Homo sapiens: one gene and its partners. The protein of the gene in region 2 interacts with the protein of the main gene of each other region in a biochemical or structural test. Each region holds a gene or a part of one and is shown on either strand. Other genes may lie near its edges. The genes, in order: FKBP1B, RYR2 and HOMER1.

Region 1 (3,752 bases), on a different chromosome or scaffold from region 2:
TTGTGCGAACAAGAGATCTGTGTTCTGTCATCAGGAAAGGCTACTACATGCATCACACAAAATGCACAACCTGAAATGCTTCAATCTGCAACCGAAGTTTCCTCAAGCAAGAATTCGCATGAACACTGACGAACACATACAGAGCAACTTGGGCAGAGAGAATGGATGATGCCATGAGGCAGTGAGGTTAGCACACTGATCAAGAGCCCCAAAAGCAGGAGCCGTCCCAGTGGCAGAGCAGGCTAGGAGGGTGAGCAGCAGCCATCTCCAGCCACCTTGAGTTCCTTCCTGCCTTCACTCTAAGTTGAGCAGCTCCACGTCAAAGATGAGGGTGGCATTGGGAGGGATGACACCGGGGTGGCCCGTGGCTCCATATGCCACATCAGGGGTGCAGGTCAGCTTCGCCCTCTGCCCCAAGCTCATCTAGCAGGGATGGGGGCAGATGGGGAGAGGAGAAAGAGGACCCAGCTTGATTTAAAAGAAAAAAGTTAGATGACTATGGCATTTTCCCAAACCATCCTCAATGTTAACTCTGAAGATCTCAGATGAATTTTACATGGGATACATTGAAATCGTGCTAACAGCTTTAACAAACGCAGATTCTGCCTCAGCAGAGATGTGACTGTGGGGCAGTAACCCTCACAGAGTGGTCTCAAATTCATGCATCTGACAAACATTACTGGTTATTCAATTTGTGTATGACTGAAACACTTCCATTTGTTCATAGTTCACCCTCTTCCAAAGAATAGGCCTCTTTAGGAAAAGAGGGTGTATGAATAGCACACGTAAATACTCAAGTAGGTGACAGGGGCAGTTATTTAAAGTGGTTTAGAGACTAGAGTCACCAGCAAGGTGGCAAGGGGGACCTATTGTGGCCAACCGTGGTGGCTCACACCTGTAATCCCAGCACTTTTGGGAAGCCAAGGTGGGCAGATCACTTGAGTCCAGAAGTTCAAGACCAGCCTGGCTAATATGGCAAAACCCTGTCTCTACTAAAAAATACAAAAAGTCCGGGCGTGGTGGCTCACACCTGTAATCTCAGCACTTTGGGAGGCCGAGGCAGGTGGATCACCTGAGGTCAGGAGTTCGAGAGCAGCCTGGCAAACATGGTGAGACCCCGTCTGTACTAAAAATACAAAAATTAGCCAGGCGTGATGGTGATGGTGCACACCTGTAATCTCAGCTACTCGGGAGGCTGGGGCAGGAAAATTGCTTGAACCTGGGAGGAGGAGGTTGCAGTGAGCTGAGATTGTGCCACTGCACTCTAGCCTGGGCAACAGAGTGAGACTACGTCTCAAAATAAATAAATAAATAAAAAACAAAAAACAGGCCGGGCACGGTGGCTCGCACCACTTTGGGAGGCTGAGGCGGGCAGATCACGAGGTCAGGAGACCGAGACCATCTTGGCTAACAACGGTGAAACCCCGTCTCTACTAAAAATACAAAAAAATTAGCCGGCCGTGGTGGCGGGCGCCTGTAGTCCCAGCTACTAGGGAGGCTGAGGCAGAAGAATGGCGTGAACCCAGGACGCGGAGCTTGCAGTGAGCCAAGATTGCGCCACTGCAGTCCAGCCTTGGTGACAGAGTGATACTCTTTCTAAAAAAAAACACCAAAAACAAGACCTATCGTAAGGGAGCATCATAGGACTTCACAGACAGACCAAGAAAGAACAGCTTGAACCAGGGCTCATCACAGCAGTTGTTGAGAACCCACTCAGCATTAGTGGGACAATTGGTGAAATTTAAATCTACTTTTGAATTTTGAATAATCAAAAATTTGAATAAGTAAGTAATTTGTATCAGTGTGAATGTCCTGGTTTTGATAATTGTACTATGGTTATGCAAGAAGGGGAAGCTGGATAGAATATAGAAGAACTCTGTACTATTTCTTTAATATTTTTGTAATTCTGAAATTCTTTTCAAAAAAGCGAAAAAACGAAAAATTTTCTTGGCCTACTCCACCCCAACTCTTCCACTACCTCAGTCCCAGGCAACTGGTAGACCTCAGCTAGTTTATTTTTTTGTTTTGTTTTTTTGAGACAGTCTCACTCCATCGCCTGGGCTGGAGTACAGTGGCACAATCTCTGCTCACTGCAACCTTCACCTCCCCGGTTCAAGTAATTCTCCTGTCGCAGCCTCCCAAGTAGCTGGGATTACAGGCATGCACCACCACGCCTGTATTTTCAGCAGGGACGGGGTTACACCATGTTGGTGAGGCTAGTCTTGAACTCCTGGCCTCAACTGATCCACCCCATTCGGCCTCCCAAAGTGCTGGGATTACAGGTGTGAGCCACCGTGCCTGGCTCTCTCAGCTAGTTCTGAGCAAGCCTAGGGGGATGTGCTTGGGATGAGAGCCCCCAGGGACACAAAAGAGGTATGCTGGCAAGGAGAGGGGTGGGGACGCAAAGCCAGGAGGGGACACCAGATGGCGTTGCCATGCCCTGGCTGTAGAGTCAAAGCAGTAGTGGTCTGTGAGTGGGTGAAGGTGGAGGTGGAGGGCAGAGTGCTGATCCCAGATCCCCAACTCCCCAGATCCCCTTTAATGCGAATCCTCATCCTACCTGGGCTGCACCCTCTTCAAAACCTTTGATGACTTCCTGTTTGCCAATTCTGAACTTGAAAGGTTTGTTTCTGTCTCTGGATGAATCAAACTTCTTCCCATTTTGGAGCATTCCTGTCAAAGCAAGAATCGGGTGCAATAGAGCTGTGGTCATGAGTAAACTCCCAATTCAGATTCCACATGTCTAAAATGGAATGCCTTTTCTGCACACACCTGCTCCTCTTCCGATCCTCCCCATCCATCCTGTTGCCCAAGCAGGAAATCTGGACACTTCCTTCTGCCTCACCCCCACATACTGCCTATCACTAAGTCCTCCATATCTTTGGAATCCACCTATTTTCTTCATTTCTATTTTTATTTATTTATTTATTTATTTGAGACAGAATCTCAATTTGTCACCCAGGCTGGAGTGCAGTGGCACAATCTCGGCTCACTGCAACCTCCATCTCCTGGGTTCAATCGATTCTTCTGCCTCAGCCTCCCAGGTAGCTGGCATTACAGGCGCCCACCACCACACTCAGCTGATTTTTGTATTTTTAGTAGAAACAGGGTTTTGCCATATTGGCTAGGCTGGTCTTGAACTCCTGAACTGCAGGTGATCCACCCACCTTGGCCTCCCAAAGTGCTGGGATTACAAGCATGAGCCACTGTGCCTGGCCTTTTCTTTGTTTCTATTACCACGACCAAGTCACCAGCTTATCTCACCTGTACACAGGAACAACCTCCTAACTGGTCTTTTTGATCCTCTTTTACTCGCCTCCATTTCATTGTCCACTTGGCATCCAGACTGATTTTTTTTTTTCTTTAAACACAAATCTGATTCTATTACTCCCCTGCTCAAAATACTTCAATAGCTCCCCAGAGCAGAATCCAAATGCCTACCTTGCATACAGGCACTTCACAATCCGGCTCTGGCCTGCTTATAACCCTCTCTGTTCTCCCCTTCCTTCCCTTCCCTCTGTGTCCTTTTCAGGTCATACCTTTCTCAAATTCCTCTGCACTTTTCAACTTTTTTTTTTTTTTTTTTTTTTTTGAGTCGGAGTCTCCCTCTGTTGCCCAGGCTGGAGTGCAGTGGTGTGATCTCGGTTCACTGCAACCTCCGCCTCCCGGGTTCAAGGGATTCTCCTGCCTCAGCTTCCTGAGTAGCTGGGACTACAGGTACCTGCCACTATGCCTGCTAATTTTTTTATATT
Region 2 (3,752 bases):
TTTCTCTTGTCCCGATCTTCTCCTTGCCACAAGATTTCTCTCAAGTCTGTCCTTGTAGTTAACAGTGCACCAAGCATCATGGGAAACCGATGCCCAACACGGTCCCAACTCACCCACAGAGCATCAGGGTCAGAGCATTCTCTGACCATTGCTTGAGTTTCCCAATCAGTTCCATACATTTTATTAATTATTAGTGATAAATGGTCGGAGAAAGGTAAAATCGGAATTGGTTAGAGTGATCCAAGAAAACTCTGTGTAGGATGAAAAGCATAAGCAAGGTATCAAGGGGCAGATCATAAAAGGCCAAGTAGAGAAATTAGACAGGATATGCAAGGATGTGAGCTGAGGCTGGGAGATGGACACGAGGGTTTCAGGAGGACTAAAATGGCAGGCGGATTCTAGGTGGGTTGCCGATTTGTTGCAGGAGGAAGGATGACGAAGGTTGAAATGAGTACTGGGATCAGAACAAGAAGCTAACGGAGTATGAAACACATCGAAATCTGAGTTGGATTGCAAAGAGAAACACGATGGGCTATGATGACAAATTAGATGCAGAAGAGAAGAAAGAGAACTAGACAAATGCATTGAGCCACTCCCATGAGCCAGGCACTGTTGTTCTAAGTCCGTAAAGCTAGGTGCTGGTGGATTCCGGCCTCAGACTCAGGTCTTCTGAAGGTTAGGATCACACTGGAGCCACAGCCACAAACGGCAGTGCCACTGATCAGCAGAGACACTAGGAAGGAAAGTCGCTTAGGGAACCGAACAGGCAATGATGTCAAGCTGGTGTTTCTGGGGTCCGAGAGGCAAGAGGGAAGTCTAAACAGAGGCTTGAAGTGAAGGCCCAGGGCTGTCGAATCTACGGTGGGTTTCTCCTACAAAAAAGAGTCGCTTTGGGAACATTCCTTTCATCTCTCTGGCTCTCAGAGCTGGATGAAGTCATTGTTAAGTCTTTTCAGACTCTGTTATTCAAGAGATCCCAGATTTTGTGACATAGATAAGCTCATGAAGGCAGAAGAGCCAGAACAGGAAATAGGACAGAATCTTTTGGGATAACCACACACTTGGAGTAAAAGGAATGAAAAGCACCTGGAAAAAGCATGATCAGAAATGTAAAAAATTACCCAGAAGGTACCATGTCCCCAAAGTCAAAAGAGTAGCTTCAAAAAGGAAAGTCAGGGTAGTAGAGCTTGAGAAGGAATCTAAGGGAATAGGGACAGAGAGGGACATTTAGACGTGGCAAGGAGGGAGTTACTGGCAACATCCTGGAAAGTAAATTGAAGAAGGAAGAGAAGCTAGATAATTACATGGAGAGGGGTACAAGCAGTGGGAGAAGACCACTTCTGCAGGAGGGGAGCAACCAAATAAGGTATCCGGGTCAAAGACAGACATTTTAAGATGGGAGAAATTAACAGGCTTCAAGATAAACCAGAAGGAGTAAGTGGATAGGGAGGCAAAAAAAAAAAAAAAAAGGCTAGAAAGGATGGATTCCAATCTTGGCTTCCAGGACCAAGATTCAGGCCATGTGAGGGACTGTAACATTAGAAAAGACAAAAGAAACCTCCTTTTCACTGGCTGGAAGGACAAGAGGACAGATTTGGAGACAGAACTCTATGAAGGTCAAGTTAAGGATAAAATGGAAAAGTGGGTTTAAATCTACTCTATAAAGAATGATGTGCTGGTAAACCTCCTTTCTGGAAATTCTTCACAGATTTTCATATACTCTCCATTACTAAATGCCACTAACTTGGAGTGTGACACTGGGCCAAGTCATTTGGCTTTCTGAGCTTTTGTTTCCTTATCTGCAATATCAGAGAGGCATGGGGTGGACAGGGTAATGTTTTCTAAAGGCCTCTTCCTACCCTAATGTTTTGGAGTTTGTTTATGCATTTTTCCTTCTGATTGCTCCATGCCATCCTCTATATCTATTCTTTGCAATTACAGCTGCAAACCACTTCCCTACTTATTTGGAATACTTCCTTAACATGCTATGCATACAGACGGTGTTCAACAAATGTTTTCTGAATTAATCTAATTCCCACAATGTCAGAGTTTCAGGAAAAATGTGTGCTTCATCACCTCTCCCTCTCTCCCGAAAGCTATCTAAAGAAGCACAGTCACCCAGTGCTGCTGGAGTCCTTTCTTGGGTAATTCAGCCGTGATAAAAACACTTATCTGAAGCCAAAGTACAAATACAATTGAATGTCAAATAAATTAGTGCCCTAAGCGTTTTAGATCTTGCCCTTCCTGCCAATGTGTACATGCTAATTTCTAAGTTAAAATAAAATAAGTCTGATGATGTAAGCCTGGGTGGGCTTTCCATCAGTTCCTTGGGAAAATACCATAGTGCATATCTATCTAAAGCTCCTCGTAGCTTCATTATGAAGGGAGCAAAAAGTGCGAATTTCCACTGCTCATTCCATCTTTTCCTTTGTACTCTGTGACATTCCTACAGCTGAGAAAACTGACTTGGTATTCTTTTGCTATAAACCTAAAACATACTTGAACAGCAGATAAAGAAGCCTTTCTCTCCTGGAAAGAACACTATTAGCCTAAGATTTGAATTTTAGTCCTCGTTCTGCACTGCTGAGTACTGACTTCATACCATTAACCTTCCTGGACCTCTACAAACTAGGGCTAAGTATTCCCATCCAAACTACTATGCAGTGTTGTACACCAGCATCTATACTGCATAATTGTCACCATTTGTAGATGAGTATATTTAAAGATGCTTCTTGTCATTGTGGAACAAGATGTATGAACACTGAGAAGAAATCTATAATGAAATACTTCATTCTGCAAAAGAAGACAGGAGGAAGACCGTAAGCATTCCTATCAGGATCATTCTTACAGCCAGGACTAAGCTTTAAGTCTCAATCTATGGGTAAATACAAAACTACATGACACAGTACACCACAAGGGTAACTCAACTGTGCTTAGACAAATGAAAGAAAGACAAAGTACTCAAAAAAAAAAAAAAAAAAAAAAAAAACCTTGACCAAGGTCATTTTATACCATGGTTTTCCTAAAGTCAGAGGAATATCTTCTATAACATTCTGTATGATTGTTGGAAAAAAAAAAAAAAAGAGGACCATAACGAAAAAGATGCGTGTTTTTAAATGCCAAATGACAGTTTGATGCTACATTGGTAAGTTAATAAAATCTTTAAAATAAAACACACATTCCAAATCATGGATATGTTTGGATATGACAGTGAATGAATCCATTACAAGCTGACAGCTTATTTTATGATAGGATTTTTCTCTCATAAAATAAGTGTCCCAGCATATCCAGAGTTTACAAAAACATATTTTCAATCTCTCTCAAAGATAAACAGACCCAAGTGGGCAGGTTTCCAACAGATGGGGGAGCCACTGAATCAATGATCATTCATCTACATAACTATTTGGAAGGAATGTGAGCCAACTCGACAAGCAGCAGCAAATGGAACAGAGATGCCAGAGAGACAGGTACAAGCTAAACAGTGACAAACCCCTTTGCAAATGAGGAATTAATTTACAGCAGCATACATAACTCACAGATACAGCCCATTAAAGATTTCACCTCTACTTCCCTTAACAGTGATCTCACACCTCTTCTAAAAAAAGAAAAGCAAAAAAGCTTTCTGTGGACAGTGGTCAAAAAGATGCCTCAATGTGCTGGGGTGCTGAATACAAATCCAATAGACAATGACCTGCTCAAGATAATAATCCAGATGTTCTAATCAGGACATATGAAATGTCCCATCAAATTCA
Region 3 (3,752 bases), on a different chromosome or scaffold from region 2:
TCTTACTCTGTCACCCCAGGCGGCTGGAGTGCAGTAACGTAATTTCGGCTCACCACAACCTCTGCCTCCCGGTTCAAGTCATTCTCCTGCCTCAGTCTCCCGAGTAGCTGAGATTACAGGTGCCTGCCACCACGCCTGGCTAATTTTTATATTTTTAGTAGAGACGAAGGGATTCGCCATGTTGGCCAGGCTGGTCTCGACCTCCTGACCTCAGGTGATTCAGCCTCCCAGAGTTCTGGGATTAAAGGCGTGAGCCTTGCCCTAATTATTTTTCTTGAAAGTTTAATTTTTACATTGTGAAAAAAATTTAGTTCTTAATTTTTTTTTCATTCTTTATCCAACTTGAGAGAAGAATAAATTTTTGGAAAAAAGTGTCTGTAATTTCAACACCAGAACTATTTTTTATTTCCTATTTCTACATTAATTCCTAGTGTTTGTCCTCATGCATACGAATTTTTGCCAGTTTCAGTGAGCTACTTTATATTCTGTTCTTTTCATTTAACATTTACCAGATTGTCTTTCAGTGATCTAATTTTTTTAAAATTTCCACTGTCCTTTAGACTTGATAGAATTCCTTTAGAGATTAACATTTAAAGGATGTATTAACATTTTGAAACATCTCATTTTCTGAGGCTATCATGTTGTGTAACTAACATCAAGATATTTTCGTTGTCCCATATAGTTTATATATCTTAATGTAAATTGTGTCAGTCACTTAGTTTCTCTCAAATGTAAAAGTGAGCTTTCCAGAACGGATATATAACAACTTTCAATTCATTGCTTATCTGAATTGCTTATTTAAAGTGTAATAGTTGGCTTTCTCCCATTTTTCTCAATCTGATTTTTTTAACCAAAATGAAATCATTAGCTTGATTTATGTCATTTTATTTTTTTAGACTCACTTTATTATATTTGTCACATTTAGAGACAATTTTAAAAGCAGTAATAGGCCAGGCGGGGTGGCTCACGCCTGTAATCCTAGCACATTTGGAGGCCGAGGCGGGTGGATCACTGGAGGTCAAGAGTTCAAGACTGGCCTGGCCAACATGGTGAAACCCCGTCTCTACTAAAAATATAAAAATTAGCCAGGTGTGGTGGCGTGTGCCTGTAATCCCAGCTACTTGGGAGGCTGAGGCAGGAGAATGGCTTGAACCTGGGAGGCGGAGGTTGCAGTGAGCCAAGATTGCACCATTGCACTCCATCCTGGGGGACAGAGTGAGACTGTGTCTCAAAGAAAAGAAACAACAACAAAAAAACAAAAGCAGTAATAACTGCTAAATAATTTTTAAGTGTGCCAGAGTTTATTCTGTCAAAAACAAATCATTTAGTGTTTTTTTTGTTGTCATGAACATTTGATTTCCTTTTGTCATTTTTTTCCCTTGGTTTGCAATGTATTGGAACTGTTAACTTATAATTCTCTAATATGTACAGTTATTATGTATCTTCACTACAGTTTCTAGCAATTGAGTGATACTCTCTACATATACATTTATTTGATATTGAGGCAAAGCAAAGAATAACATATTCAGAGGATCCTAAAATCACATTTTAGAGAGTTACTTTCTTGTCTAAATCTTTCTCTAGAGTTGCCAGTAAACAGAAAAAGTTAATTTCTTTTTCTTTCTCTGCCTGCTTTCACCTGTGATTGCTAATAATTATGCATTAGGAGAAATAGGTGGACAGCAATAAAAATGAGATCTAAGTGATCCATAAATAGGTCTTCAAGCCTGTCTTGGTATTTGAAGTACCTAGAGTGTTGCCTGGCACAAAGTAATGAGTCAGTAGATTTTCGTTGAGTGGTTAGATAGATTGATAACCAAGCCAGTCATTAAAATCGTATTGCTCTCTGGGATGGCCAAGTCTAAAATCTCCTTAAATTGTGCTAAATTAAGATTCTGCAGCTCATCCTGACAGTCAAACTGCATTGATTACCGCAATATTGGTAATAACAGAGAGTTGTATTGTTTTCTAAGTGATGAATTGACATATATACATGTTACACTTTTGTTTCTGAAGGAAGTAGAAATTCGGAACAAAGACCTGGAGGGACAACTGTCTGACTTAGAGCAACGTCTGGAGAAAAGTCAGAATGAACAAGAAGCTTTTCGCAATAACCTGAAGACACTCTTAGAAATTCTGGATGGAAAGATATTTGAACTAACAGAATTACGAGATAACTTGGCCAAGCTACTAGAATGCAGCTAAGGAAAGTGAAATTTCAGTGCCAATTAATTAAAAGATACACTGTCTCTCTTCATAGGACTGTTTAGGCTCTGCATCAAGATTGCACAAAAAAAAAAAAAAAAAAATTGAATATCACTCCTCCAGGAGGAGGATCTTTTGAAATTGGAATTGTATATTTCACTGTAAATTTTAGAATCCAGCTTGTAGCTAGTTGGGGAAAAAAGATGAAAAACTTGAACTACAAATTACCTCCATGTATATTATTGGCCATAGTTAACTAGAAAGTTATAAATAGACACTTAATGCAATCTTTTTTCCTGATATTAGCCAATGGGAGAATTAACAATGTCTAGGTCACATCCCCTTTTTGTGTTCAACACAGTGAAGATTATCTGCTTTTTAAATTAATTTATTTACGATATCTAGAGCTGTGTTTTGTGCAAAAACTTAGTGATGAAAGCCTGTCTTTTGTTGTAATCTGAATAATTTCTCAGGATATTTTTGCACTGCTGAGAAGCAGTGCCATTACCAATTAATTCTTGCCAGGAGTGAGAGAGAGCTGTATCTTTAATTGAAATATACTATAACTGGGTGTATAGAGTTCTTCCCTTTTTTGTGCTGGAAGATATTTCACTCTGGTGACTACTCTGGTACACTCTGGTGTTCTCTAATCTTGTCTGTTGTATAGTTTACTTTTCCATATTGATTCCATGTATTTATGAGAAGATATTGTCTCCCATTTTATTACACATTTTAAAGCCAACTAACGAAGGCAGCTGAGTCCCTCAGAAATTTTTCTTTTTAAGTTTCTAATAAATTTGACACACAGTACTGAAATACAGCAGCCCGTCATTGACAGGCTGGTCTAGCAATGTTAAGTATATTTACAGAATATGCAGTTACATTTATTTATATATTTTGCAAGAAATCTTTTCTGAATGATCAATGCATTTCAATTTACGAATAATAATGGTTATTGGGGAACTGTTTATTATAGATAATTTTAAGGTGTATAGCTATTTTAAAGGGGGTCCATTTACATCAAACAGCTGATCAGAGGACTCTATCTAAATTGTGATCGTGGCAGATAGAGATGGAGTCATGTACTCTATCTGGCTCTACACATCAATCACATCTTGATTCAAACCTCACAAGGCAATATTCTGAATTGTTAACTAGGTATTTCAAAACAGGAATTAAATTCAATAGGCTCTTCTCAGTGAACAGGTTTTAATGTTGTTTTGATGTAATTTTAAAAGACTTTTAGCAAACATGCATTTCTTTATATGATATATTTCTTTTACGAAGCTATTTTAAAAGTAAGCCAAGTGCTGTCTAGTCTGCTTATAAAGTAGGAATTGCATCAGAGTACATATATTCTTGCTGTACAATGCCTGTGATGTTGAGGAGGGTTCTTTTTTAAAGTGTATGCTTGAGTAACTGACTCTATGGAGTCTATAAATGCACTGACTTCTTGTTTGTACCCCAAAATGATCGAATTGTTAAGTACAAAATTAAGCTAATTAACCAATTTGTAACCATTTTTTCACTCATAAACAGCTACTCAA

Evidence for each region.
Region 1: the proteins of RYR2 (region 2) and FKBP1B form a complex in vitro, tested with the Homo sapiens proteins (one study listed by BioGRID).
Region 3: the proteins of RYR2 (region 2) and HOMER1 form a complex in vitro, tested with the Homo sapiens proteins (one study listed by BioGRID).

The regions. Positions count from the first base shown.
Region 1 is NC_000002.12:24,059,735-24,063,486, reverse strand, and holds part of FKBP1B (peptidyl-prolyl cis-trans isomerase FKBP1B), read right to left. Parts: intron 2,674-3,752; coding exon 2,561-2,673; intron 469-2,560; coding exon of another isoform or gene 424-468; coding exon 295-423; 3' UTR 1-294. UniProt on the Homo sapiens protein: Has the potential to contribute to the immunosuppressive and toxic effects of FK506 and rapamycin. PPIases accelerate the folding of proteins. It catalyzes the cis-trans isomerization of proline imidic peptide bonds in oligopeptides.
Region 2 is NC_000001.11:237,045,107-237,048,858, reverse strand, and holds part of RYR2 (ryanodine receptor 2), read right to left. Parts: intron 1-3,752. UniProt on the Homo sapiens protein: Cytosolic calcium-activated calcium channel that mediates the release of Ca(2+) from the sarcoplasmic reticulum into the cytosol and thereby plays a key role in triggering cardiac muscle contraction. Aberrant channel activation can lead to cardiac arrhythmia.
Region 3 is NC_000005.10:79,374,462-79,378,213, reverse strand, and holds part of HOMER1 (homer protein homolog 1), read left to right. Parts: intron 1-2,016; coding exon 2,017-2,205; 3' UTR 2,206-3,752. UniProt on the Homo sapiens protein: Postsynaptic density scaffolding protein. Binds and cross-links cytoplasmic regions of GRM1, GRM5, ITPR1, DNM3, RYR1, RYR2, SHANK1 and SHANK3.